Homo sapiens: one gene and its partners. The protein of the gene in region 3 purifies or fractionates together with the protein of the main gene of each other region. This does not show direct contact. Each region holds a gene or a part of one and is shown on either strand. Other genes may lie near its edges. The genes, in order: ACSS1, ACSF2, PPA2 and LYRM7.

What was found.
Region 1: the proteins of PPA2 (region 3) and ACSS1 purify together in Homo sapiens (affinity purification with mass spectrometry; 3 studies listed by BioGRID and IntAct, with this or other methods). This does not show direct contact.
Region 2: the proteins of PPA2 (region 3) and ACSF2 purify together in Homo sapiens (affinity purification with mass spectrometry; 2 studies listed by BioGRID and IntAct, with this or other methods). This does not show direct contact.
Region 4: the proteins of PPA2 (region 3) and LYRM7 purify together in Homo sapiens (affinity purification with mass spectrometry; 3 studies listed by BioGRID and IntAct, with this or other methods). This does not show direct contact.

Annotation. Positions count from the first base shown.
Region 1 is NC_000020.11:25,055,116-25,062,435, reverse strand, and holds the start of ACSS1 (acetyl-coenzyme A synthetase 2-like, mitochondrial isoform 1 precursor), read left to right. Parts: upstream 1-4,296; 5' UTR 4,297-4,333; coding exon 4,334-4,667; intron 4,668-7,320. UniProt on the Homo sapiens protein: Catalyzes the synthesis of acetyl-CoA from short-chain fatty acids. Acetate is the preferred substrate. Can also utilize propionate with a much lower affinity. Provides acetyl-CoA that is utilized mainly for oxidation under ketogenic conditions.
Region 2 is NC_000017.11:50,421,429-50,429,217, reverse strand, and holds the start of ACSF2 (medium-chain acyl-CoA ligase ACSF2, mitochondrial isoform 2 precursor), read right to left. Parts: upstream 3,001-7,789; 5' UTR 2,957-3,000; coding exon 2,829-2,956; intron 2,314-2,828; coding exon of another isoform or gene 2,239-2,313; intron 1-2,238. UniProt on the Homo sapiens protein: Acyl-CoA synthases catalyze the initial reaction in fatty acid metabolism, by forming a thioester with CoA. Has some preference toward medium-chain substrates. Plays a role in adipocyte differentiation.
Region 3 is NC_000004.12:105,464,061-105,471,091, forward strand, and holds part of PPA2 (inorganic pyrophosphatase 2, mitochondrial isoform 1 precursor), read right to left. Parts: intron 1-7,031.
Region 4 is NC_000005.10:131,194,914-131,201,944, reverse strand, and holds part of LYRM7 (complex III assembly factor LYRM7), read right to left. Parts: intron 2,415-7,031; coding exon 2,344-2,414; 3' UTR 1-2,343.

The DNA of each region.
Region 1 (7,320 bases), on a different chromosome or scaffold from region 3:
AATGGCGAAGGCCGTGTTGGTGGGCTCTGTCCCTAAAGCTGTTAAATTAAGATGCTCTGGACGCTATGGCTCTGCTACCTACTAGCTGGTGGCCTCGGGTGAGCTTCTGTCCTCCTGCTTATTTTCACACATGTACAGCAAGGGCAAGAGCATTCACTGCTGCAGGTTGTAGGGTCAGTAGTCACAGCTGTGTTGGCATTTCTGGCCTAAACATTAGTACCGAGACAGAAGCGAATCCCGGATTCCCAAGAACCCTGCCCTCTAAGCACTTCGTGTGTCTGCAGCCCCTGCCTGACAGCATCCAGCGTTCCAAGTGAGCTCTCCTGAAGTTGAGGCCAGCGGCTTCTTAGGGAGAAGATGTGACCAGCACTGCCCAGATAGCCTGCTGCCCTGTCCAAACCTCTGAGGGTCCTTCGGGATGCAGGGCCAAGAGTGGGTGCTCCTTGTGCTTGTTCAATCTTGTGCTTGTTCTGCAAGAGTTGATGACTGGCTGCCAGGAGGGAGGCAGTGGGGACGACCTTGGCCTGGGCTGTGACACTCAGAAGGAAGGTCTCAAGGCCACCTCTAGGTAACTCGGGCAGCAAGAAGTGCAGTTCTGCACCACCTGGTTGGTTCTGACATGTTTGGTTCTGAAATGATCACTTCTTCTTATCCAACCAGAAGGAACGAGGTAGCATTTATTTTAAAACAGAGTTAGTTCTACCTACTTTTCTCATTGCAACTGTAGAAGACCTTAGAAACGAAGGTAGTAGGAAGAAGGAGCCATTGCCGTGCACTCTCCATGGGGTGGCTGTTGGTGCCAGGCCCAGTCACAAGCAGCATAGCTGGTCTCTTCTCTCACAGGGCTCCCTCCTGGTAGGAGGACTAGGAAGATAAACACAGAGCTAATAAGTAACAGCCATGGAGAAAAGTCAAGTCAGGGGTTGAGACTAGGGAATGAGGGCGGAGGTATAACTTTATGTAGGTGACAGGGAAGAAAGGGCTCTTGGATGAAGGGATGTTTGAAGACACCTGAAGGAGGTGAGGGGGAGTCTCTGTGGACAACTGGGTGGAGCATTCCAGGCAGAAGGGACATCGTGTGGCAGTCCTGAGGTGGGAGCCTGCTGGGTGATGGGAAGGACAGGAGGAGGCTGATGTGCTGGAGCCCCAATGAGTGAGAGCAGAGGAAGAGGGTACACTGGATCAGGGAGGGCAACGCTTCTCTAACGTGAATGTGCATGCAGCTCCCCTGGGGCTTAAGATGCAGATTCTGAGGCAGCAGGTCTGAGATGGAGCCTGGCATTCTGCATTTCTACAAAGTATCCAAGTGATGCTGCTGGCCCATGGACCACACGTTAAGTAGTGAGGCTATGGCCTGTGGGCCAGGGAATGATGTGGTCTTTGTTTTGAGGAGACTGGGGAGCCTTTGGATTGTTCCAAGCTCCAGAGCAAGTTCCTCTGACTCTTGTTTTAAAGGAATTGCACTGGCTGCTGGTTAGGCTGTCAGGGGCAAGGGTGAAAGCAATTTGAAGCCTACTGAATAATCCTAAAAGAGATAGGTATGGTTAGGATGGTAGCAGGAGGGGATGGTGATGGGGGAAGAGGTTAGTGCTGCAGGTGTTCTGAAGGTGAGTCACAGGATTTGCTGACAGGCTGCATGTGGAGTGTGAGGGGGAGGAATCTAGGATGACAAGGGTATGAGCCCAAACAACAGGAAAATGCCATTTCCATTCACTGACATGGAAGATCCGTGTTGTGGGGAAGAATCCCAGGACTTGGTATGTTTCAGATGTGAATGAGACATTTGAATACAGGACTGAGATGTGGAGGAAAGGTCCAGGCGGGAGGTGTCAATATGAAAGTGAGAGGCTAGAGAGCTGGCTGCTGTTTCCTAGGGGGCAGGGGAGAAAGGGGGATTTGAGGGCTGAGCTCCTGGGCACTTCAACACTTGGAAGGCAGAGAGAAGAAAGGCACCCAGTACAGGGCACTGAGAGGCAATAGTCAGTGAGTGAAAGAACCATGCATTTTTCAGCCTCAGTTGTTGTATCAGTTACCACTGCTGAGTTACAAACCATCCCAAAATTTAGTGGCTTAAATTTATTCCTTCTACAATTCTGTAAGTGGACTGGGAGGTTCCTTTGCATCCCAGGTGTTATCTGGGGTGACTCATGAGGCTGCCTTGGCTGGGACAGGAGCCTCCACATTGGCGTCATTCTTGTCTGGGAGTTGGTCCTGGCTGTGGATGGGACAGCTTCATCCTCGCCCTGGGTCCCTTCCTCTGGAAGGCCAGCCCCGCTTCCTCACAGCTCGCAGCTGGGTTCCATGGGAGGATAAGCTGGGGCTACGGGGTCTCTCAGGACCTCCACATGGAACTGTCACAGCATCCCTCCCACCAGGCTGTACTGGCCAAAGCAATCCAGCCAGCCAGGGTCCTCCTCTGGACAGAGCAGCACACCATCATGTGCAGGCGGTGCAGGCGTGGGAAGGAAGAGTTGGTGGCCGTCTTTGGGACCCCCTGCCACAGTTAGGAGCTTTCTCAGTTTACAATTTTACTACTCACTGACCTCTGCCTCTCAGTGCCCTGTACTGGGTGTCTTTAATATTCTATTCAAATGAACTTAGGCCAACGAGCTCCCCACTGGGGGCACTGGGTGTTAGTCTTGCTCTTCCCTTAGCCAGCTGCATGCTCTTTAGTAAGTCCTTTTATTTATTTGGGCTCAGTTTCCTCATTTTTTCCACCTGGAGTTTGACAGTTGGTGGGAATGGACAGCACTAGATAAGTTTCAAATTAAGTAGACTAGTCGGGTGCCGTGGCACACGCTTGTAGTTCCAGATACTCAGGAGGCCGAGTCAGGAGGATCGCTTGAGCTCAGGAGTTCCAGGCTGTAGTGAGCTGTGATGGGAACCATTGCACTCCAGCCTGGGCTACAGGCCCTATCTCTAAAAAAGTATCATAAATAAATAAAGGAGAAAATGCAGGTCAAGCGCTAGCACTGTGCAGGGCATGTGTTATGCTAGTAGATGTCACTGATTCTCCAGCTCTAGGTACACTCCTGTCTTCTCTGGCAGACAGCAGCATTCCCCAGCAGGGGCTGGTGGCTAGCCCACGCAGAGGCTCCTCCAATGGCAGGCTCCTCCCCTCTGCAAGCCCTACAGCTCAAGGGAAAGAAACTTTCCCATCACAGAGAACTCAATAAACCAGTTTTCCAAAATCTCTCTTCCCTGTGTTTACCCGTTTGTTATGAATTTACTTCTTGGGTGTCAGAATATTTAAGAACTCGGTGGAGACCAGTTTTATACGTTTCCTTCTGTCCTTCCTGGCTCCACAGCTGCAAAAACATCATCCCCACTACTGAGCTTACTATGGGGCCACGCAAGGGTAGACGCTTGACAGACATTGTCCAATGTATTCCTTACTGCAGCTGCCCACCCCCGCCGTCCCCGCCCCCCAGGGAGACATTACTTCCGTCTTCCCCAAAAGGAAAACGAGGCACCGAGAAGTTAAGGAACTTGCTCAAGGTCACAGAGTTTGAACTCAGGCTACAGATGCTGCAGCAACTGGAGAAAGTCCTCATCGCCCCATATCACCCACCACCGACCCCCAGCAGGACGTGACCCCCGCCAGGACGGAGGCCGGCAGCTGGGGGGCTGGAGCATGGGACCCAGAACACGGACTCAGGCTTGCGCAGCCTCCTGGCTTCTAGGCGGGAGCCTAGAAAGGCGCCAGCCCCTTTCGCGTGCTGCTGAGACTCCAGGGGTGGGGTTCACTCTCAGGGGCGCACAAAGGCATGAAAACCTTGGCTTCAGCCTCTGAGATGCGGAACTGACCGACCTATTGTCTTGGGACCCACCAGTGCGCTTGGGTGCACCAGCCCCCTTAACGTTGGTGCCGGCTCCCTCCCGGCTCCTCCCCATCCCAGAGGGTCCCCTCGCCCCAGGCCCTGAGCCTGCGTCCTGGGGTCCTGGGCCGCACGTGCCTCTGGCAGCTCGAAGAAGCTGTCGGGGCTTGCAGGAGAGCGTGCAAACTGAAACCAAAACAGGCCGACTCGAGGAACATCCGGGTGGGACCGCAGACTCACCGGAGCGCAGCGCCTGGGCCAGGGCCTGGGACCCTGCTCCGCCCCGCGCTCCCCTGCACCCCTTCCCCACGCTGCTCCCCTCTTCCTAAGCGGCCCCCCCTCTCCCGGGCAGCAGAAGAAGGGGTGGGACCCGGGCGGGCTCCGGGAGGGGGCCCTGGAGGAATGGATGGTGGCGGAAGGGCGGAGCAGGGGCGGGGCCCGCGGAGACTCCACGGGGCGCCCCGGGCGTGAGGCACCCACTCTGGGAGCACAGAGAGCTCAGGTAGCCTGCCTAGATGGCGGCGCGCACCCTGGGCCGCGGCGTCGGGAGGCTGCTGGGCAGCCTGCGAGGGCTCTCGGGGCAGCCCGCGCGGCCGCCGTGCGGGGTGAGCGCGCCGCGCAGGGCGGCCTCGGGACCCTCGGGCAGCGCTCCCGCAGTTGCAGCAGCAGCAGCACAGCCAGGCTCGTATCCCGCGCTGAGTGCACAGGCAGCCCGGGAGCCGGCCGCCTTCTGGGGGCCTCTGGCGCGGGACACTCTCGTGTGGGACACCCCCTACCACACCGTCTGGGACTGCGACTTCAGCACTGGCAAGATCGGCTGGTTCCTGGGAGGCCAGTTAAATGTCTCTGGTGAGTGGGCTTCGGGAGACCCAGGACGCCCCCAACTCTTGGGTCCCGAGGGGACTCGGAGCCTCTCGCCAGCGGCAGCCGTCCCCGGGCAGCGCGGATCGCAGCCCTGCAGGGGCCCCTCCTCCGGTATTCCGTCCGCCCCGCCCGCTCTAAGCAGTGGCTCCACGTCACCCCGTCCCTCATCCCATCGGGCCCCAGATCCACGTGCCCAGCTCGGGCCGGCGCCCGCGGGGACCCGGCGGCCGCTTGGGACGCCCCGCTGCTGGCCTTGCTCGGCGCGGCTCCTCGCTCGGCGGACTCCAGAGTTGCGTTACCGGGTGCATAGCGCCGCTGAGCAAGAGCCGGCGGGGAGCCGCGGGCTACACCCGAGCGCCCCGGAGTCGGGACTTTCCCGTTCCCATACCGGGGTGGAGGGAAAAACAAAGCGGTGGCGGTTGTCACTGCGGGCTGCGGTGCCCGGGGATCAGCCTGGGGACAAGCCCTGCCCACGTAAACAAACAGAGCTGTGGCGGGCGACCTGGGGAGGAGGAAACTCGGCGTGGCAGCTGGAACCAGTTATTTCTTCGCTGCGGGCCTGGGGCCTGGGGCCTGTGGACGGGAAGGAAGTAACGGCGGCCTCCCCGTTCTCGTTCTCGGCCTCAGAGAACTGCACCCCAGCGACCTGGGGCCTGCTTTGGACCCGCGGGGTCTGACGTCGGCCCCAAACAGTTGACTGGTGGTCAGTTGTTTGGAACTTGCTGAGCAGAGGCCCTGCTGCTCTGCTAAGATTTGGGGCTGGGGGTCGTACACAGCACCCTCGCCCCCACCTAAGGCGCTGACTGGGCACCGAGGGGGAGGCCCTGAACTGCAGGCAGGGCTGGCCACGCAGGGTGGGTGCCAAGTGCGAGGTGGGCTCCGGATGCAGGGTGGGCCTGGGTGTGGGGCCTGCGGGGAGGGGCTGGCAGACACGGTGTTGATCAGAGGGATGCAGACCAGAAGGGTGGTCATAACCAGCTTGCTGGATTTGGGAGTGTTTAAGAAAGGACCTGCGGGTCTTTATGGCAGGGTCACCAGGGCCCCATTTTCTCCAACTCCTCCCTCAGTTGTCCTTGTTGTTCTGCCCCCCCAGCCCTCAGTCTCCTCATTGTGAGGATGGGGGCAGTCATGCTCAGAGGTTAGGCTGAGTGCTGCAAGGTGTGCAGCAGACCCAGCGCTTACTGGTGACCCATAAGCAGTAGCGATTTTAGATAACTTCAGAAATAGTCATACAATTATAGATAGTGTCTTGCAGTTATTTTTCAAAGAAATTGGAAGGAACTTTGGACCTCCCCCACTCCCCGAAATTGTATATTACTTTGCTGGTTTAATTAAAATGAGTCACTTACTAGATAAGTGTTTTCTTTAACATTGAGTCAGCAGCAAGTGCCCTTGAACTAGTGGGAAAAAAACCAAACCCTTTGGTTTGCAGAGTTGGGGCAATGTGCCCTTGAAGGAGACTAGAGCAGCTTGCCCAAGGACAGAGGTGGAAAGTGACCTGCTCTGGACTTGTGAGGCCAAGGTCATGGGGAACATTCACAGTTGGCCTGTGCACACTTGCAGCCCCACTCAGATAAGACAGTGGGGCGGACCTCCTGGGGCCAACAGCAAGGACCTTCTGAACCTCGCTCGGTCAGGATCAGGGTGTGGTCAGCAAGCATTCTTCTGTCTCCTTTTCCTTCACTTATTTCTTCTGATAATATGGCCTTTATGGCTACGTTAGCCAGAAATTGAGCTTCAGAAAACTAACTTGAAAAACAGCTTTTCAGCAGCTTTCTCCCCTGGGATGTGCGTGCCCTCCTGTTCATGGGTCAGCAATATCTCTTTCCTTTGCCGGTGTCTGCAAACCATAGAGAAGACAGTATGAAAAAGGGCCAGGCCAGGCCATGACTCTTCTGGGAGCATCTAGAAAGTCGTGGGATGGATGAGAACACTTTGGTCTGATCTGTCAGCTGTGTGTGATAAAGTCAGATGGCTTGTTCCAAAGGAATATCACTCTTGAAGAAAGCTTCACCTCACCCCCTCAAGAATACCAGTGGTTCTCAACGCATGGTCTTCAGACCTGCAGCATCAGCATTACCTGAGAACTTTTGAGAAATACAAATTCTGGAGCCCATCCTGGACATCTGGAATCAGAAACCCTGGGATGGGACCTGACACCTGTGTTTATAACGAGCCCTTCAGATGCTCCAGAGGACACTCGGGCTTGAGAACCACTGGCCTGTACGCCTCAAACCAGGGCAGATGAAGGCACTTCTAAAACAGAATTGGGATTAGTGTCCTGGCCTTGGCCCTATTAAACAAACAGCAAGCAAATGATGGGCTGTGGATGGCGCAACACAGTTTCGTGGCTCCAGGTGTCTTTAGAATCATGACTCGGGTTGATTTCTTGCTTTCCCTGTACTGTACTTTGCATGTTTCCTCATCTGTAAAACAAGGGCCGTATGTAACTGAATTCTGTCCTAGTTACTATTGATGTACATCAAACCACCCCTAAGTTTAGTGACACAAGATAACAACAATTTTATATTCCTCGCAGAGTCTGTGAGTCAGGACTTTGGACAGGGCCCGATGGGGATGACTCATGTCAAAGGGCAAAATTAGGACAAATTTAGTTTAAAGACCTTACTTCACTTTA
Region 2 (7,789 bases), on a different chromosome or scaffold from region 3:
AATGAACTAACTAGCTCAGAGGTTAGATAACATGCCCGAGGTCATACAACCAACAGGGAGAGGACCCAGGGCTGTCATCCAGGATAGTCTAACTTCAAAGCCCTTGCTCTTTTCTCTCAGGCAAAACCAGGGTCTGGTAAGTAATAGGCCTGGGTGTTGGGCAACAGGAAAGCAGGCTGTGTGTGAGCAGATCGGAGAAAACAGAGGACGAAAGTCCAAGCGCATTCCTCACCATGGCACTTGCAACACCGAATAGTGCTCACCTTGATTTATTTCTCCTCCTACGAGGCTGCAAGTTCCTGGCAGGGTGAGGACTGAGTTCTGTGGCCTCTATATGCACAGCATGTGCTAGCATGACGCAGAATCTGTTCTCAGGAATGTTTGCTGATGGTTTCAGCCCTGAGGCTTCTTTTTTCATTTTTATTTTTATTTTTTTGAGATGAAGTCTTTCTCTGTCACCCAGACTGGAGTGCAGTGGTGCAATCTCAGCTCAGTGCAACCTCCGCTTCCCAGGTTCAAGTAATTCTCCTGCCTCAGCCTCCCAAGTAGCTGGGATTACAGGCATGTGCCACCACGCCAGGCTAATTTTATATTTTTAGTAGAGATGGGGTTTCTCCATGTTGGCCAGTCTGATCTAACTCCTGACCTCAAGTGATCCGCCCACCTCAGCCTCCCAAAGTGCTGGGATTACAGGCATAAGCCACCATGCTTGGCCTTTATTTTTATTTATTTATTTTTGACATGGAGTCTCCCTCTGTCACCCAGGCTGGAGTGCAGAGGTGCAGTCTTGGCTCACTACAACCACCGCCTCCCAGGTTGGAGCAATTCTCCTGCCTCAGACACCCTAGTAGCTGGTATTACAGGCACATGCCACCACGCCCGGCTGATTTTTGTATTTTTAGTAGAAACGGGGTTTCACCATGTTGGCCAAACCGGTCTCCTGACTTCAAGTGATCTGCCTGCCTGGGCTTCCCAAAGTGCTGGGATTACAGGCATGAGCCACCCACCCAGCCTTTATTTTTATTTTTTGAGTCTAGGTTTTGCTCTGCTGCTCAGGCTAGAGTGCAGTGGCATGATGACGGCTCAATGCAGCCTTGAACTCCTGGGCTCAAGTGATCCTACCACCTCTGCTTTCCAAAGTGCTGAGATTACAGGCATAAACCACCTTGCCTGGCCTGAGCCCTGAGGCTTCTGAAGGGGAAAGTAGGAGAGAAATCAGGTAAAACCATCACAGTCAGACAATAAGGGTGCAGGCACAAGGGAGTGGAAGGGGCAGAAAGAAAGTAGGCCAAACACTCAGAAAATCATCTGTCTGGATAAATGAGTCTCCTCCTGACACAGCAATAAGAATTTCTCTGAAGCTTGGTGCTCTCAGAGGTCCCAGGGCTGTAGCAGGTAAGTGACCTGTTTTGTTTATAGATAAAAAAAAGTCAAAGGTCAGAAATGTTGCCATGTGGCCTGATTTATTACTTATTTATTGGTTTGTTTGTTTGTTTTCTATTGGGCAGCCTCCTGAGCCAGAGTAGGCTGAGAGACTTCCCCTGTGGCCTGATTTAGTGTGATAAAATATGTACACTTTGGGAAGTAACTTTCCTCAGAGTCCTCCCAGCCTGAGGGGGCAGCCATGAGTCCAGAGGAGAGGCTTAAGAGACTAGGGGGTCAGGGGAGGGCCGAACTTGTCTAGGGAGACCCTGGGAAGTAGTGAGTGACTTCCCAGGGTCACTGGGAAGAGGACCCCACTGTCCTCATCTCAATCCCATCTACTGACCAGCCTTGATCCACTTAGTTTTCTCAGCAAATTAGGCAGAGTGATGTTAAGGCATTGCATGCTTTCTAGCATTCAGAAATCAGCAAGTTCAGAAAGTGTGATCTTGGAGTTCTAGCCAAAAAGGAGTCTGCATGTCCCTCCAACTCTTCCTACTTAGCCTTTTTAAAAACAAAAACAAATCTAGTTCTCTGAGACACAGCTTTGTTCTGACTTCTCCCTTTTCCATGTCCAGGCCCACACCCCATCTGATGTTGCTGAAAGTGCTGTCCTGACCATAGACTTAGTATCTGGCCGAGTTGAGTGGTAGGACAGGCTCAGTAGTGCACAGGGCTCCCCAGTGGTGCTGCTGAAGCTAACAGCCCTGATAACATGAGTGGCAGCCTGCTCTCTGTGTCTCAAGCACTTTCACATTTGCCATCTCACGGGGTCCTCCCAAGGACTGGTCACACCGGGAAGGCAGCTTTACTTACTGTGCTGCTGCAGAGGCAGTGAAGCTACTGGGAACTGAAATCCTCTGCCTGCCAGCTTCCATCCCACCCCTTGCACTGAGGACAGAAGGAAATAGGCCCAGGAGTAGGCAGCAAAGAATTAAAGCCATGTTAGTGAGCAGCTGATGAGGAGACAGGAGACTGCTAAGTTTAGTGGCCTGGGTCGGGGAGACTGGGGCTGATCCCCAAGTTTGCCCATGAAGGGGTTCCAACTCAGAGGCAGTGTCCTGGGGGTACAGCCCAGGCCTTGGCCCTTGCCCCTCCCCATCGGAATATTCTCCTTAAAGCCCACACTCCTTGCCCTCTGTGCCCATAAAGGAGAAGGAATCGAGAGTCTTGGACCAGAACTCGAAGTCACTGCAGCCACCAACCAAAGCCCCCTCCCCACCCAAGTCCACCAGGCCAAGCCAGCTTTTCCTATTGCCTAGGTGCTGGCGGGGGGCGGGGGAGGGGCGGGTACCTTCCCCCCAGTGCACTCGTCCAGAGGTGGGGCTTCCGAAGCTCGCCGGGACCTCCAAGTTCCTCTCCCGGGGAACTGCCCCGCCCCCTCTCTTCCCGCGGGGGGCCAGTACCTGAGGAAGCGGACACCCTGCAACCTGGCTTCCTGCCAACTCCGAGAGAGGGCGGCCCGGGCCCCCAGCACCCCCGAGCTCCCGGCGCACAGCCTCCCCAGGCGCAGCATCCCGACGTAGACAGCCATGGCTCGCTTTGCCCTGCGTCCCGGCCCGAGTAAACTTTTAAAGTGAGCCGGGGCGGGGCGGGCGCGCAGCGGGCGGGGAGGCGGGGAGGGTGGCCTCTGCCTATGGGGTGCGGCGGATTCGGTCTCCGCCGGCGGGGCGGGGCGGGGCGCGGCGGCGGCGACTTCGCGCGGGGCCACCTTCCCCTCCGACCCCGCGGCCCTCCCCCTCCCACCCTCGAAGAATAGCCCTGGTTTCCTCTGGATCCGAAGGCCCCAGCTGCAGTCCGAAACAGATCTTCCTCGCGACCATCCTCAGGGGCCTGGATGTTAGAAGCGCAAAAATTTGTTGATTTCCTAGAGGGAGAGCCAGCAGCACATCCGTGAGGGGCCAGATGGCAAGGTCAAGATCCATCCATCCCCTGCCCCCTCGGGTCACGTGCTGGCCCCGCTACTTGCGAGCCGGGGGCCAAAGGAGCAGGCGCGAAGCGTCCTTGAGGCATGCCAGCTGGAGCAGAGGGCCCCGCGGGGTTGGGGAGGCAGCCAGAACAAAGGGTGTCGCGGGTGAGCCCCCTGCGGGCCCGCTGGCGCCAGAGTCCCAGCTGAGGCCAGATGTCAGCTTCAGAAGGAACACCAGTTGTACCCCATCTCACAGGAGGCATCCTCCCATCCCTCCTCGGCGCCTCTGCCTTGACCTTCTGCACAGGGTTGGGGGCCGGACACGTAAGGTGGCCTCAGGGACTGGGACCTGTGTATTTCATCCTCCATCTGCCTGTCTTGGGGCCTGTGGCACAGTTCCCTGTGCTGCCCCAGGTGTGAATGGAAAGCAACCCTATGCCCCTCCTTAGGGTTCCTGAGGCCCAGGGGTGAGTGGGGTACTAAGACCTGGGCAGAGCTGCGGGACAGAGAAGGTGATAGCTCTGGTCCTGGCTAGGAAAAGTGGCACTGGGCACCAAAGAGTAGCACAGTTTATACCTGTTCCAGGTCCACACTGCCTCGGCCTAGCCATGACTCTTCCTCTAGAGAAGGAGCTGGAGAAGAATGGGGCAAAGGCCCTGGCAGTGTGACCTCCCCTCTCCTGACTGGAGGAGATGAAGTAAACCCTGCCAGGCAGAAGGGGTGGCTGAGAGTGGAGCCTGGCCTGAGGTGACCTTTGCCCTTATCTGGGAACTCTGGCTCCACTTGGGTCATGAGAAGGAGTCCATGCTGGGCCTCTTTATGATCTTGAGCGTGACCTCAAATCCTCCCTGGAACCCCGGTTCCTAGGGAGGGTCCCCACACTTCAGTTTCTGTGGGGTTGGGGCAGGAAGAGACAGAGGAACAAAGAGATCACCGGAGGCTGGGCCTGCAAGGGTGTGCTTTCCTAATTAGACTAACTGTCTTTGATAGCGGACCAGGGAATGTGGAGGGCTGGGGCATTCACAAGTCTGGGTTCCCAGCCGTGGCTGGCAGGCTTAGCCTCTAGCATGCTGGGTGACCCTGGGTAAACCACTGTCCCTCTCTTGGCCTATGAAGTGTGGGGTGGGTACTGATCTTGTAGGTCCTTCCACTCTTCTGGCTAGTTTGAGGGTCAGTCCTAGAGTGGGAGAGAAGTGAGTTCCTCCTTGAACTTTGCTCCAGCCTCGGCTTTTCAAGACACTGGGCTTTCCTGACTCTTCCTAGGTGCACAGGCCGTGGCATCATAGCCATCAGTTTCAGGGTATCTTGTACATGCCAGGCTCTTCAAGGACATTTTCTCTGACCCTCACAAACACCCTGCAAGGAACAGGCATGGCTTGGAATGTGTCTTTGTTTTTATGGATGAAGAAACTGAATCCCAAAGAGGTTCAGCTTCTTAAACATAGGCCAAAGCTCTGCCAGTAGTCTCTTTGTGGCTTTGGGCAAGTCACGGGGCCTCTCCAGCCTCGTTATCTGTCAAATGGGGATAATAATACCAACTTCACGCAGAGGGCTGGGTAAGAATTGAGTAGGTGGCACAGAACTGGTAGTCGGCCAGTTTTCAGTGATTGTTTCTTTTTCCATCCTCTCCTTCCTCTTGTGTCTTCACTCTAAGACCTTCCTCTGTGTAGGAATTGCAAACCTTTTTTAGGAGGGAGAATTGTTTTATTTGTGCAAAGCCCTGGTAGGCACTGGTTCTGTGGATGGGGAGGAGGGCTGGGAGAAAGTCAAGACGGCTGGTGGAAGTCCGTGAGTCATGGTGGGGGAATCACGTTGACCCGCATTCTTTGGCTAGTATAAGGAAGTGGGGAGCAGGGCAGTGGGCCATCCAGGCTCTCCAGCTTCCCTTCCCTTCCCTTTAACCAATTAAATTCCCCGTTGCTCCCCAAGGGGCCTTCTGCCTGAGCCATCACATCTCCTTTATGCTGCATGTGACTTGCATGATTTATGGTCCCTGTAATTTGGCTCATGCCATTGGCTACCATGAGAAAGCCCTTATTCCCGCCCCTTTGCCCATGTCTTGCTTCTGTGCTTCAAAAGCAGGCTCAAAATGTAAACACCATTTATTGATTTTTTTTCTTTCATAACATCAACCTACAGAAGACCTAGTCACAGTTACAGAATAGAATGTAAATGTAAGTATCACTAACTTTGGAAGTTACATCTGATAGTAGTTGAGAGGGAAGGGGTGGGGGAGAGTATAAAATAAAAAAAAAGGGTATGTCATTATGTACAAAAATAATAATAAAACTATAGTACCAGCACTTAGGGAGGAGAGATGGGGTGCAAGTACCCATTTATCAAACAGAAAATCTAAAACTGGCAAAATAAGTATGTCATTTAGAGGCAAGTAGCAGAAGAAGATAAATCAGAAATCGTTACAATAGTTCAAATGATTCTCTTTGGACTTAAATAGATATTTCACCAAATAAATATATATATGTATGTATGTATGTATATATTGACCCCAAGAGTTTGAGGCTGCGGTGAGCTGAGATCACACCACTGCACTCCTGCCTGGGTGACAGAGCAAGACCCTGTCTCAAAAAAAAAAAAAGAACACCCGCAAAAAAACAGAAAATAACAAGTATTGGTGGGGTTGTGGAGAGACTGGACACGTGTGCATTGGGTGGTGGGAATGTAAAATGGGGCCACCACAGTGGATGGTATGGTGCTTCCTCAAAAAATTAAAAATGAGTTATATGATCCAGCAATTCTACTTCTGGGTATATACCCAAAATAATTGAAAGTCGGGACTCCAACAAACATTTGTGTACCAATGTTCACAACAGAATTGTTCCCAATAGCCAAAAGACAGACACAACCCAAATATTCATCAATGATTGAATGGATAAACAAATGCAGTAGATCCATACAATGGAATACTATTCAGCTTTCAAAAAAGGAAGGAAATTCCCACACATGCTACAGTCCACATGAACTTTGAACACATTGTGCTAAGTGAAATAAGCCAAACACAAAAGAATAAATACTGTATGATTCCATTCATATGCGACACCTAGAGTAGTCAAATTCTTAGAGACAAAGTGGAATGGTGGTTGCCAGGGGTTGGGGGTGTGGTGGGGGAATGGGGAGTTATTATTTGTTTAATGGGTATAGAGTTTCAGTTTAGGAAGGTGAAAGGTTTTTGGAGATGAATGGTGGTAATGGTTGTATACCAATGTGAATATACTTAATGCCACTGAACCATAACCTTAAAAATGGCTAAAATGATATATTTTATTTATGTCTATTTTTCCACAACTTTTAAAAAAGCTTTTCTTTGGGGCATAGCAGTGGGAGGAAGAGTGAGGGCAGAGAACAGGCTTTTGTTAAAAAAGCTCTTTTTGGCCTGGTGCGGTGGCTCACACCTGTAATCCCAGCACTTTGGGAGGCCGAGTCAGGCGGATCATGAGGTCAGGAGATCTAGACCATCCTGGCTAACACAGTGAAACCCTGTCTCTACTAAAAATATAAAAAATTAGCCAGGCGTGGTGGCGGGCGCCTGTAGTCCCAGCTACCCAGGAGGCTGAGGCAGGGGAATGGCGTGAACCCGGGAGGCAGAGCTTGCAGTGAGCCAAGGTGGCACCATTGCACTCCAGCCTGGGCGACAGAGCAAGACTCAGTCTCGGAAAAAAAAAAAAAAAAAAAAAAAGCTGTTTTCTTATATTATTTTCTAAGATGGTGTATATTATTTCTCTTAATAAAATTTTTTATTAACATGCCTGAGGGAGGCTTCAATCAGTTACAGGAACTAATGTGTTTGATGAGGTTTTCACTGTAAAAAAAATGAGTGCAAAGAGGTTACTTAGGCTTGGAATCAACTTCAGTGTCAGATCTGGAAAGAATCCAGCCCTAGTGCTTTTTCTGTCAATGACCTTGAGCAAATCCCTTTTCTCTGGTGTAATTTTTCATAGCTCTCTGTTGTAATTGACTGTCTCCAAGTAGTAAATAAAAAATGGCCCTTTTAAAGAATTTCCTTCACTGTGTGTTTGAGAACTGAGCTGTCTAATAAGAAATGCAGTGATCATGAAGGAGAGGTGGAAAAAAAAGAGAGACCGCTGGCAGCCACAGAAAGAAAAGGGGAGAGGAAGTTGAGGAAGGAAGTTTCAATTTTCAAAGATATTGAAATGACTTGGAACAGAATGTGTATATTCTGCTAATCAAGCCAATTAGATCCAGTAGCCAATATAAAAAAAAAGGCTAATAAAAATTGTTCTAAACACGGATGTTTCTCATTCTCAAACTCTCAAACTGAAAGTGAAAATAAGGAACTTGATTTGAACTGCTGTGTAGAGTCAAATTATCTTTTAGTTATCTTTTTTTTTTTTTTTTTTTTTAAGAGACTGTCTCACTCTCACTTGGGCTGGAGCTGGAGTGGTGCAGTAGGGCAATCATAGCTCACTGCAGCCTTGAACT
Region 3 (7,031 bases):
TTCCACCATGCACCCAGAAAAGCCACAGACATTCAATCCAGCCCATGAAAGCAGCAAGGAGGGGGACTATACCCTGCAAAGCCACAGGGGCAGAGCTGCCCAAGACCACAGGAACCCACCTCTTGCATCGGCGTGACCTGGGTGTGAGACACATGGAATCAAAGGAGATCATTTGGAGCTTTAATATTTGACTGCTCTGCTGGATTCTGGACTTGTATGGGGCCTGTAGCCCCTTTGTTTTGGCCAATTTCTCCCATTTGGAATGTTTTATTTACCCAATACCTGTGCCCCCATTGTATCTAAGAAGTAACTAACTTGCTTTTGATTTTACAGGCTCATAGGTAGAAGGGACTTGCCTTGTCTCAGATGAGACTGTGGACTGCGGACTTCTGAGTTAATGTTGAAATGAGTTAAGACTTTGGGGGACTGTTGGGAAGGCATGTTGGTTTTGAAATGTGAGGACATGAGATTTGAGAGGGGCCAGGGGCAGAATGATATGGTTTGGCTGTGTCCCCACCCAAATCTCATCTTGAATTCCCACATGTTGTGGGAGGAATCCTGGTGGGAGATAATTGAATCATGGGGGCAAGTCTTGTTCTTGTGACAGTGAGTAAATCTCATGAGATCTGATGATTATATACGGGGGAGTTTCCCTGCACTAGCTCTCTTGTCTGCCACCATATGATACATGCCCTTCACCTTCGGCCATGATTGTGAGGCCTCCCCAGCCATGTGGAACTGTAAGTCCAATAAACCTCTTTCTTTTGTAAATCACCCAGTCTCAGGTATGTCTTTATCAGCTGCATGAAAACAAACTAATACAAATATACAGTATTTCTTAACATCAATAACCTGACTTTTACCTCCCTTTCCTCATTCTTCTAATTTTTGTCTTCTGCATATTTATTTTTTCATATCAAGGCTGATAGAATGTTCTGTAATCATACTGAATTTTCTATGCATTTCCTATTATATATATCAAAAATTTCTCTTAGATAAGAAAAACCTGGAATGCTCATTAAAATGCAGATCCCTGAACCACCATCCCACATCTAGTGAATCAAAATCTCAAGGAGGGAGAAATGAATATCTGTATTTTTAGCAAACATCCCAAATAATTCTTACACTCAGGTGTGTGAGAAGCGTTGTCTATGTGTTTATTTTTGGTGAGGATGCTGCTATAATTAAATTTCCTTTTTTGGTTCAGCTTCTATTTTTCTTCGTGTTTCTAATTATCTTTCTTACATTGTCATAATCACGTCTATAAGTTATTCCAATGCCTCACGGATATCATCAAAATTATGGAATCCTCTCTTTACCCAAACAGCTCCTTCAGGAACCCTCTATCCTCAGGCTGCAATATGAACTGGATGCTTTCCGGGCATCCTAAGACTGCTTCTTTGCTCTCCAGTGTAGATCTATCATTTTCTGGATCCCATGCATTCACGTTTTTTTGGTTTACTTGTCTTGCAGAAGCATATCCCTAATAAGTGTTCTGTAAGAAGGATTGCATGTGAGGCCAATTTCTCAAGTTGTTAAATGTCTAAAATGTCTTTACTCTGTTCTCACTCCAGATTGACAGCTGGCTGGGTAGAAAATTCTAGGAGGAAAACTCTTTTCTCTCAGAATTTCAAAGGCATTACTCCAGTCTTCGAGCATTCAGTGTTGCAGGCCTGTTAGCTGACCACCCCCCAGCAAGACATGTGGGATCCTCTCAATAGCTGTATAATAATGTGACTGGGGGGGTCAGAAAACTTGGGTCCTTCAATTCTTAGATTTTTTTCTATTATCCCTTTTACAATTTCTTCTCCATTTTGTCTGTTCTTTCCTTCTGAAACCCATATGAGTCAAATGTTGGACTTTCTGGATTCAATCTCTACGTCACTTCTTCTTGCCTCCTTTTTCTATCTCTGACATTTTGTTCTACTTTCTGATAGATTTACCTTATCTTCTAATTCATCTATATTCTTTTTCTTAGGACTGCTGCAAGAAACTACCACAAACTTCGTGTCTCAGAACACCATTCAACCCACTACACCTTCTACTGACTTACTTGTTTTAACAAGTTATTTGCTAAAGAGGTCTTGGTCTTGATTGCCATTTCTTCACAGCCAACTCTTCCTTTTTTTTATAGCAGATGTAATAGAGAACACCCACTTGACCTTCTAAAATTCAAGTTTCTTGTTTTTCCCATTTAATTTTTAAGTTTTCCTTAAATTCATTCAGTAAATATTTCTTGAATATATGCACTGTACTAAGCATGGTTCTAGATACTAGATACAAATTCCAATTCCCTGTTCCTATGGAAATCACATTCTAGTTGGGGTGCAGAAGCAATGATTATGTGTTTATTCTATCACATATCATAAGCACTATAAAGATAAAGGAAAACAAATTAGGGAAAGTGAAGAATGAATAATGGAAGCGTTACCAATGGCAAATCCCTATGGCTCTGCAACAATCTCAATTCTTGCCTCCTCAGAAGAAAGAATTCAACTGAGGGGCAGAAGGCAGAAGGAGAGGCTGAGGCAATTTTACAGATGGAATCAGTTTATTATAATAAAAGGCTTTAGAGCAGGAACAAAGGGAAGGAAGGTACACTTGGAAGAGGGCAAAGTGGGCAACTTGAAAAGACAAATGCACGGTTTGACCTTTCAACTTGGGGTTTTATATGTTAGCATACTTCCAGGATCTTGTGTCCCATCTCCCCTGATTCTTCCCTTGGGGCAGGCTGTCTGCACACACAGTAGCCTCCCAGCACTTGGGAAAGGGACCATGTGCAACGTGTTTACTGGAGTTGTACGCGTGTTCACTTGAGGTGTTCTTCCCTTACCAGTCGAATGTCCCTAGGAGGTCACATACCAAACTCTGCCATTTTGCCTCTTAGTGCAAACGCTTGAGCCCACTCACCCAGTTCCTGAGATCTCATGGGAAGCTGCTGATCACCAGCTTCAGGTGCTTCTGTTTATTTGGAGACTGCCTTTCCCTGGTGCAGGCTGCAACCAATTAATATTTTAGAGAAACAGTTAACAACTGCCTGACCATCACCTGATGTTTGCCTGTCATTCCTGGTGTGTGTTGAGGGAGGGGAGCCCTCTTCTGCCCTGCTCATGCCTGACTAGCTACCTACTGTAACAGAAGGAGTAATATTTGATATTGAATGGTCAGGGAAGATCTCTCTGGTGGGTAACAGTTCAGCACAGATCTGAATGAAGTGAGGGAAGAGATCAAGTAGACCTCTAGGGAGGAGCACTGAAGGCATAAAAAGCACAGGTGTGCAGAGGAAAGAACATACATGGCATGTCTGAGAAACAGCAAGGAGGCCAGGATGGCAGGAGGACACTGATCAAAAGGAAAAGTGGCAAGCAATGAATTCAGAGAGGAGCCCAGTATTAGATCCAGTAGGACCTTACATGCTATGGTACATATTTCAAAAAATTTTTTGAGTGAAATGGAAAGCCACTGGCATTTTCAGCAGAGCTTGTACATTATCTGACTTACATTTTAAAAGGATGAAGGTGATTGCTGTATGGAAAGTAGACTATACAGGGCTAAGGGTGGAAGCAGGGTGAAGAATCAGGAGGTTACAACTGATCAAGGGAAAGATGATGGTGAAACAGAAAGTGAGAAGGGTGGAAGTGGACAGAAGGAATTGTCTTTTGGTACATTTCAAAAAAATATGCTAATGAGTTAGCTGTGGGATAAGAGTAAAAGGTGACAAGAAGAATGCCCAGGTTATGGGTTAGCAACTAAAGAGAGAAACAAGTTCGGTGAGGGTGGGGAGTCAGGAGTTCTGTTTTGTGCTGTTAATCTTGAGTTGTATCTTAAACATTTAGGTAGAAATACAGAGTAGAAAGCTGGATGTGTAAATTCTGAGTTCAAGAAGAGATGCGGCTAATGTTATAAATTGGGGAATCATAAACAGCGTCTAACACTATGGGACCTGATGGGATCACCCAGAGCAACAGCAATGGTCAGCAAACTCTGGCTTTATGGGCCAAATCTGTCACATGGCCTGGTTTTATTTTTGTAAATATAGTTTTATTGGAACATAACCACAGTCATACTTTTACTGTCCATGGCTGTATGTTACAATGGCAGAGCTGAGTAGTTGTGACAGAGACTGAATGGTTCGCAAAACCTAAAGTATTCCTTATCCGGCCCTTTACAGAAAACTTTGCCAACACCTGCCCTAGAGAGGCAGTATAGATAGAGAAGTGGGCTGAGGATTGAGCCCTGGGCATTTCAAAGGCTAGAGTTCGGAAATATGACAAAGGTTCAGCAAGGGAGAATGTGAAGGAGAAGCATCAAAACTAAGACAAAGTGCATCCCAGAGGAAAGCAGTTTCCTCTGGGAAAGACAAAAAAAGTGTTTCAAAGAGAAAGTGATGAACTGTAAAAAGTACTGCTGATAGGTCATATGAGGACTTCAAACTGACCATTAAGGTCGCAGCATGGAGGTGACAGGTAGCCCTGACAAAAAGCAGTTGGTAGAACAGTAGCGATGAAAGCCTAAGTTAGGTGATCCTTGACTATTTGGTTTATATTAAAAAGACTAGAAAAAATCACTGGGAACTCTGTGTTCCCACAGAGATGAATGGGTAGGAGGCTGGCTGTTATGCTGGGGTCCCCAAATACCAGCATGCAGAGTACTGCTGGGGCACCAACACCATCAGGGGTCCTACTTCCCTCTCAGCTCTTCATTCACTTTTACAGTTGGAACTAACACAACCCTCATGCATTAGACCTGCATGGGAAACATTTGTGTACTATTTGTAGTACAACTTAAACTAATCCCCCTGTGTTAAGTTCTACATCCATCTAACTCTCTATCCTATCTTATATCAACACACCCACAACCTCTCTGAGGTTCTGCAGCAGCTCGGCTTTTCCCTAAACTACGTCCCCTGAACACATATACTTAAGCTGGGACTTCTTCCACACTGCTTCATTAATAACCATATCTCCATTGGTTTTTTAATCTTTTATACATATTTCAAAATCTCAAGCTTTGGTGGCTCCTTATCTGTTGTTTTAGGGTTACCCTTTCTTATCCTCACTTACTATCACTTTAATAGGATATTTATTATAGGGGAAAAGAGATAAATGATTGTAGTCACTGTGTCATTTTTGCCATGGTATTTCACTGTCGTCAAAAATCAGATTGTGTCCTTAGGCATTAATTGCTAACCTCTATCAGGCCCATCAATCTACACGATATTGCCAAACAGTGGTCAAAATTCTCCCTTCAACTGGTCTGAAATCAGATTTTATTCTAGCATTTTCTAAGTTATCTATGTGATTCTTTCTCTCACAAGAGCAAGTTGTATCAGGATGAAAGTTTATTACTTACACTAGAGCAAGTGAGAAAATTGAATGGAATGTGAAAACCATACCTAATTTTATGTATCTATACCAGACAGCTAAATGTATGCCATATACCAACATATGATTACACACGACTACAAAACCACTTATAGAGATTCTTACTGGAAGCTTCAGCAATGACTAAAGCTAACTTTGTTTTATTTTCTGATAAAAAGATTAAGAAATGTAAAGGAGCCTAAAAACTTCAATAAAAATGCTTCCTCTGTTCCATATAGATCACACAATTCCTATTTCACAGCACTGATATAGAAAACGTTTAAGGTTTTAAGGACTGAAAAATCAAATAAAATACTTTTTCTATATTCACACAAAACCCATTGTGTTCCATTATATCAGTTGAAGTTCTATGATATAGGCCAACTTTAAAAAGTTACAGAAACTCATATTTAAGACTCAAACAAATTTTGTGGATTATTCACGGGAAGTTCTCTTTTAAGTCCAAAGATACAGCACTTTCAATGGCAGATTCCTCCTACTACCCAAATGACATAAAGAAAACCTACAGTAATTTCAACACAAGCACATGCTTACTATAAGTGACAAAGCAAATTAATTTTAAAGAACTGCTTGGTTCATTCCCAGACTAAATAAAAGCAACTTGAATTATCCACAGCACTATTTCTCTAAGTAAACCAGTTGCCTATCCCATAATAACAAAATTCCTAATTATGGAAAGCATAGCTTTTCCCTATCCTATGAGAACAGTATGAAATCTAAAATAAAATTTCAAGTTATTAACGAAACAAAACAAACAAAAACACGCAAGATATCAAAGGAATACTGGCATGCAGCATTAGGTCTTTGGCTCAATATAAGTGAGTCTAACTTCATTATGATTTCACAGTTAATTTAAAAGACTGCAAGTACCCATTAAAACTTTAAGACCTAGGAAGCCGGGCACAGTGGTGCATGCCTGTAGTCCCAGCTACCCAGGAGACAGAGGTGAGAGGATCGCTTGAGCTGGGGAAGTCAAGGCTGCTGTGAGTCGTGATTGCACACTGTGCTCCAGCTTGGGCAAAAGTATGAGACCCCATCTCTAAACAAACAAACAAACCAAAAAAATAAAAATAAAATGAATAAACAACAACAACAAAAAACCTTCTGAAACCTATAAATTAACAGGAACACTTCAAAATAATCAATCACATCACCTTATTTTCTCCCTTCACAGAATCTAATAATAAGGATTTTAGTCTAATGTCTTAAAGTCAAAAGGGAAAAATAAATAACATTTATTAAATACCTATCACGTGTGAGACACTGATAATTACACACATAGTCTCATTTAACTGCCACAGCAATTCTATAAAATTACTAGTGCTATCCCCATTTTATTTACGGAGAAACTGAGCTACCGGATGTCATCTGAAGGTAAGGGATGCCTCTGGTTAATTCAGTCGAGTGACTTGTCCAAGACGGTAAAGTCAGGACTACAACTTAAGTGGTTTGACTATTAGTTTAGAACTGTTACAGCACAGTTGCTTCTGGAAGTTGCAGAAATCATAACCCTGATGTCACTAAGATGTTAACAAATGTTCTGAGAAATAAGTACTCTGTGGTTCAGTTTTTGGAGAAGTTACATCCGAATTTTCCAGAACTTAAATAGGCAAATTCTTCTTCAAAAAAGTAATAAAATGGGAAGTG
Region 4 (7,031 bases), on a different chromosome or scaffold from region 3:
GCATAACTGCTGAGCCCCAGGGGTCAAGGCTTTAGTGGACCATGACCATGCCACTGCACTCCAACCTGGGTGACACAGCAGAACTCAATCTCAAAAAATAAATAAATAAATTAGCATATGCTATATAAGAATAGAGTGCGACATCTTTCAGAATTTTGTGACAGTCAAGCCTGTTGTTGACATGTTTATATACTTCACAGGAACTTTATTTATTTATTTATTTTTGAGACGGAGTTTCACTCTTGTTGCCTAGGCTGGAGTGCAATGGTGCGATCTCGGCTCACTGCAACCTCCGTCTCCTGGGTTCAAGCAATTCTCCTGCCTCAGTCTCCCGAGTAGCTGGGATTACAGACATGTGCCACCACACCTGGCTAATTCTGTATTTTTTTTAGTAGAGACAGGGTTTCCCCATGTTGGTCAGGCTGGTCTAGAACTCCTGACCTCAGGTGATCTGCCTGCCTCGGCCTCCCAAAGTGCTGGGATTACAGGCGTGAGCCACTGCGCCCAGCCAGGAACTTTCAGGAACTTTATTGTGTAGTCTTATGGCATGAAAGTACAATATCATATCTACCTATCTGTATCAATATATCTTTTTTTTTTCCTTTTTCCTTTTTTTTTCTTTTTTTTTTTTGAGACAGAGTCTCACTCTGTCCCCCAGGCTGGAGTGCAGTGGCACAATCTCAGTTCACTGCAACCTCCACCTCCCGGGTTCAAGTGATTTTCCTGCCTCAGCCTCCCGAGTAGCTGGGACTACAGGCGCCCGCCACCATACCTGGCTAATTTTTGTGTTTTTAGTAGAGATGGGGTTTCACCACATTGGCCAGGCTGGTCTCGAACTCCTGACCTTGTGATCTGCCCGCCTCAGCCTCCCAAAGTGCGGGATTACAGGTGTGAGCCACAGCGCCCGGGCCTATATCAATATATCTTAAAATTTCTAAGCCACTATCTTTAATAAACATGTGAATTATTAATCTCATCTGCTACTAATAATGACTATAAGAAAGAAATCTGGAGTTATTTAAATTAATATGAATGAAAAATGGAACAGGGAATTCAGGTTAAAGAAAAAAGCTCAGTGATAAAATATTCAATAACACTAAAATATAGAATATATATTAAATTTAAATAACGTCAGCCAACTTTCCTCAAAATATGTCATATAGACACTAAAATAACTGTAAGTCAGCACATTTATATAGTGATTATATACTGCGATGACATTCAGCATTCTCTTAAAAGGGCAAATTTCAAATTTGAAACGACTTTCATTTTTCTCTAGGTATAATTTCTAGATACATAACAATGCTTGCATTGAGAATCTTGCAAAAATTAAAAACCCTGTATCATCATCAAATGAGAGAATTTATCAGTGAATGGGAGAAAACATACTATTCACTGAGAAAATAGAATGGCAAAGATACACAGATAAAAGAGAAACAAGAAGAATATTAAACAGTATTTTACAGTTCCTAGTGTTAGATGGTAGAATGCCAGGACCTTTTGTGATACTGCCCATCTTGTCAAGGACAGGACATGTGGAAGAAGAGAAGCCATTTAAGTTTCATTAATTAAAACGATGAGAATGTAGCCACCGATTACATTTCACACTAAAGTCTAACTTTGTCTAAATACAGCTAATTCTACTAAGGCCATATTAAATAGTTTGATCAAGGGCCACTATTTCCTCTTTAAACTAGGATTTCTTTATTCCATAGTGACCCTAGGTGACTATAATATTTTATTCATCTATTTTCAGAAAACTGATAAAAAATGTCTTCATAAGAACACAGAGATACTCTCTATCTCTAAAAAGAAACTGTACAATTATATATTAGCTACAGAAATAATCCCAGTGCTTTAGAAAACAAAGGCCACTTTCTGTAGAGAGCTGGCATACACTGTGATTTTTTTGACCAATTTAATATTTTTCAGGACTAAATATCATTTTAATCTAACAATTTAAATGTAATAATTGCATTTCACATGGCAGGAAAACTCACCAATTTGTAAAAGCACCACATTCTCAAATAGCTATGGTAAGATCAAATACTCATCAAGGTCAAAGATTGAATATATCTCCCTAAGCATTTACTTTGCTTTATGAAATTTGATTTTCAATGAAAATGAAATGTTTTCTTATCTAATTTCCTTTAGAAATACTTAATTATGTTCTTTAGTTCTCAGTAATGACCTTTTAACATGAAATTTAAATATGAAGCTATTCTGTAATTCATTCATTTTCAATATGCCAGTTCAGGGAAAATGTCTGCATTTCCAGGACTTTTGCCAGAGTTGTAGATTTTAAAGTTAAAAAGTACAAAGACTTGTTGTATTCTAGAAAACTCATTGCTTCTGAGTTGGTGCATCACAATATGGCACATTTTCTACAAGAAGGTCTTTCCTAGGGACCAGTTCTGAAAGAAAAAAAAAAAAGAGAATAATTAACATCACTAAAATTAGAATTAAATGCAAGGACACTCATTTCCCCCTAAAATTTAAAATAGTAAAATATCCAGTTTTAAGATAAATCTTCCAGGGATATTTTATTTCAGTTGATATCTAAGGTGGCATCCTTGACTCTAATTAGAATTAATAGCATTCTCATTTCAGATTATATAAAAACATATATGATCCACTTAACCCTTTATCATTAAATATAGCAAATCAAATAACTGAAGAGAATTCAGCTAAAACTTCTATTATTGGTCATTTAATTACCAATTACTGATAATGAAAACAACTGGAAATTTTGCTTATACTATCTACTATATGAAAAGCAAGACTGGTCTCCTAATTTAAAGATTCTAAATTTTAAATAACAATTGTTCTTAAAAGAGGGTGTTTTGTGTGGTCATATCAACTGGAGAATGCTACTGGAATTTAGTGGGCAGGAGCCAGGGATGCTAAACCTTCTGTAATGGGTGGAACAGTCTGGCATAGTGAAGAACTGTCCTGTCAAAAATGCCAATAGTGCCCACATTGAGAAATATCATAAAACAACAACAAAAACCTGTTGAGTCCTAGGTAAGACATCTTGCTGGAGTTAAGATAAAGCTCTTAAGATACAAATTTTTGGCCGGGTGTGGTGACTCACGGCTGTAATCCTAGAACTTTGGGAGGCTAAGGAGGGATGATCATTTGAGGTCTAGAGTTGGAAACTAGCCTGACTAACATGGTGAAACCCCATCTCTACTGAAAAAAAAAAAAAAAATCAGCTGGGTGTGGTGGTGCATGCCTGTAATCCCAGCTACTCAGGAGAATGAGGCACAAGAATCGCTTGAACATGGGAGGCGGAGGTTGCAGTGAGTGAGCCGAGATGGTGCCACTGCACTCCAGCCTGGGGGACACAGTGGCAGTCCACCTCAAAAAAAAAAAATTCCAAATTTTTGAGGAGATACATTGATTTCTTCTTCTTTTCTCCAGAAGAGCTGAACCTAGATGAGCTATCAATCAAAAAATGCTTGCACGACCTTCTACAAAATAACCTGCCTATACTTTTCAAAACATCATGGACATGAAAGACGAAGAAAGACTGAAGGACTGCTCTAGATTAAGGATACCTAAAGAGACATGATGACTACATGCAATGTGTGATCCCCAATAGGATACTGGTCCACAGGGAATTTTTTTTCCTTTTGCCATAAAATACATTATTAGGACAAATGGAAAGATTAAATGATAGCATTGCATCAATATTAATACCCTGGTTTTGGTCATTATATTGCAGTTACATTAGAGAATGTCCTTGTATATTTAGGAAATACACACTGAAGTATCTTAAAAAAATATACTCTAAGGTATTTCTCCAGGAGATCTAGACCCAAATGGGCTGTCATAATTCTAAAAATGTTCATTTGGGGTAAATAGGCATTATGTCTGCAACTTACTCTCAGAAAGTTCAGGAAAAAAAAATGAGGGAAACACAATAAGGCAAATATGGTAAAATGTTAGCATTTGTAGAATCTGGGTAAAGGAAATTCTCATACCCTTCAACTTTTGCACTTTTTTTGTAAATCTGAATTATTTCAAAATAAAAAGGTTTTAAAAATATATATATTTACACACACACACACACACACACACACACACACACACACAGTGGCCAGATGCAGCGGCTCATGCCTGTAATTCTGGCACTTTGGGAAGCTGAGGTGGGAAGATTGCTTGAGGCCAGGAGTTTGAGACCAGCTTGGGAAACACAGCGAGACTCTGTCTCTACAAAAAATTGTTTAAAAATTAGCTAGGCATGGTGGTGCACACCTGTATTCCTAGCTACTCAAGAGGCTGAGGCAGGAGGATTGCTTGAGCCCAGGAGTTTGAGATTACAGTGAGCAATAATTATGCTACTGCACTCCAGCCTGGGAGACAGACTCTCTCTCTCAAAAAAAAAAAAAAAAAAAAAAGACAGAAGACAACACTAAAACAAATTCAACCCAAAAGGCAAACTGAATATTTCACTTAATTAAGAAAGAACTGGTCTGACTAAGAATAGTGCTCTTATTAGCCAGATGATAAATTTGGCTTACTGAAATGAAAACCAGTTAAATAAGTATTATTTAACCATTGTTTATATCTCACTTGCTTTTACCAAACCTATGGAGATTTCATCAGAGAATAAATTGTAGTGTGCATTTTAACTTGTTAACAATGGCAATAATTTGTTTCACTTATCAAACCTATATGTGCCTATTTCATGCTAGACATTACATCAAGAAATTAAGATATGAAGGTGAATATATAATAGTCTCTTCAGCTTCCAGAAACTCACAATCTAATGGAAAAGATAGCTAGATAAACAACAAATTATAGTATAATGTCATGTGTTACAAAAGTGGAACAAGACTTTTATGGGAGAATGGAAAAATAAATGGTTAAATATACCCATATCACTTTAGAGTATGTTCAGTTCTGAATAACCAAAGTCCAAAAGCTGGTTTAAATAAGTAAGAGATTTAATTTTTCTCACATTATCAATAAATACAGATTAAAGGACAGGCATGGTGGCTCATGCTTGTAATCACAGCACTTTGGGAGGCCGAGGTGGGCGGATCACAAAGTCAGGAGTTCGAGACCAGCCTGGCCAACACAGTGAAACCCTGTCTCTACTAAAAATACAAAAATTAGCTGGGCGTGGTGGCAGGCACCAGCTACCAGGGAGGCTGAGGCAGGAGAATCGCTTGAACCCAAAGGCAGAGGTTGCAGTGAGCCGAGATCGTGCCACTGTACTTCAGCCTGGGCGACAGAGCTAGACTCCATCTCGGAAAAAAAAAAAAAGAAATACAGATTAAGGCAGTTCTGGGCTAGTGCTTGTCCTTAGTGATACTAAGGACCCAGGCTCTTTCTCTCTTCCTGTTCTGCTACCTTCCATGAGTGGTTTTGTCTTCACTGCTGCTTGTCATATCACATCTGCACTCCAGATGGGAAGAAGAGAGAAAAGGGCAAAAGGAGAGTGCCAGCTCAGCCTGCTCCTTTTAAACAGGAAAACAATGACTTTCTTGGAAGTAACACCGAATAGACACGGTTTATATAGACCAGAAAGGTGTCACATGGTCTGGAAAATAACTTTTTTTTTGCTTGGTACATTGCACCCTGAACACAATTTCTCAGTTAGTAAAAAAGAACAGGAGAAGCCAAGCACGGTGGTTCACACCTATACTCCTAGTACTTTAGGAGGCCGAGGTGGTTGGATTGCCCGAGCGGTAGTCCCAGCTATTCAGGAGGTGTGAGGCATGAGAATCGCTTGAACCCGGGAGGCTGAGGTTGCAGTGAGCCAAGATCGTGCCACTGCACTCCAGCCTGAGCGACAGAAGGACACTCTATCTCCAAAAAAAAAAAAAAAAAAGAACAGGAGAATAGATACTGGAGAGGCAACAAGCACAACCCCTTTGGCTATGCAAAATGCATATAAATCCTTCTTTCCATCTGTAGCATACATCCACTCACTACCTGTCCCCTCAGGTCTCATCTAGACTGAAATCAAGGATGTTTGGTTACAGTGCTAGTGTTTCCATTAGGTCCTGCTGAGCCTCATTGTTCTAAGGTGGAGATACTGGGGAAGATGCCCTTCTTTGGGGCTTTAAAAGCTTTCATAGTCTACTTCCTGGTGATAGGAGTTTAGGGGCCCAGGGGTGGCCTTAAGAGGTGAAAAGAGCTAGCCAGGCCTGGAGTTTCTTGGCAATACAATTCACTCAAAAACTTTATAAGCTTCAAATTGGTTTCCAGTCATTTCCATGCACAAGTAGCCACAGAAAAATAAGGATGAAGACTGTCATCCTTTGGTAGCAGCCTCTACGTTCTGCCCATCTCCTTAACCCTTACCTTAGGGGCCACTTCTTAAAGCAATGAAGAATAGTAAGTTCCAGTCAGTAAATGAATCATATATCTAATCTTTGTCTGGAAGAATGAGAAAGTCTTGAGGCATCGATCTTATTTCATGTTACAGCTCAGAATTTCCCTGCTTGTACTGGCTTTAGTTTTAGTGGATAAGAACAATTAGCATTTTTAACTCTCCAAGGCTCTAAATTATGGGACTCTTAATCAATTAGACTCTAGGCTGTAGACAGAATTGTGCCTTTTAGCAAAGTAATACTTTTTTCTATCTCTGCTTTGTGGGCTAGCTTAATCTGCATTCAACCTCTTTTTCAATTTTATTTATCATTATTATTATTTTTTGAGACAGAACCTTGCTCTGTCTGTCGCCCAGGCTGGAGTGCAGTGGCTGTGATCTCGGCTCACTGCAACCTCTGCCTCCCATGTTCAAGCAATTCTCCTGCCTCAGCCTCCCGAGTAGCTGGGATTACAGGCGCCCACCACCATGCCTGGCTAATTTTTATATTTTTCAGTAGAGACGGGGTTTCACCATGTTGGCCAGGGGGCTGGTCTCAAACTCCTGACCTCAGGTGATCTGCCCACCTCAGCCTCCCAAAGTGCCGGGATAACAGGTGTGAGCCAGCGATCCCGGCCAATTTTATTTTGCCTAACTCATATCACCAGGAAGTGGACTATAAAAGCTTTAACTGTTGGTCTTTGTT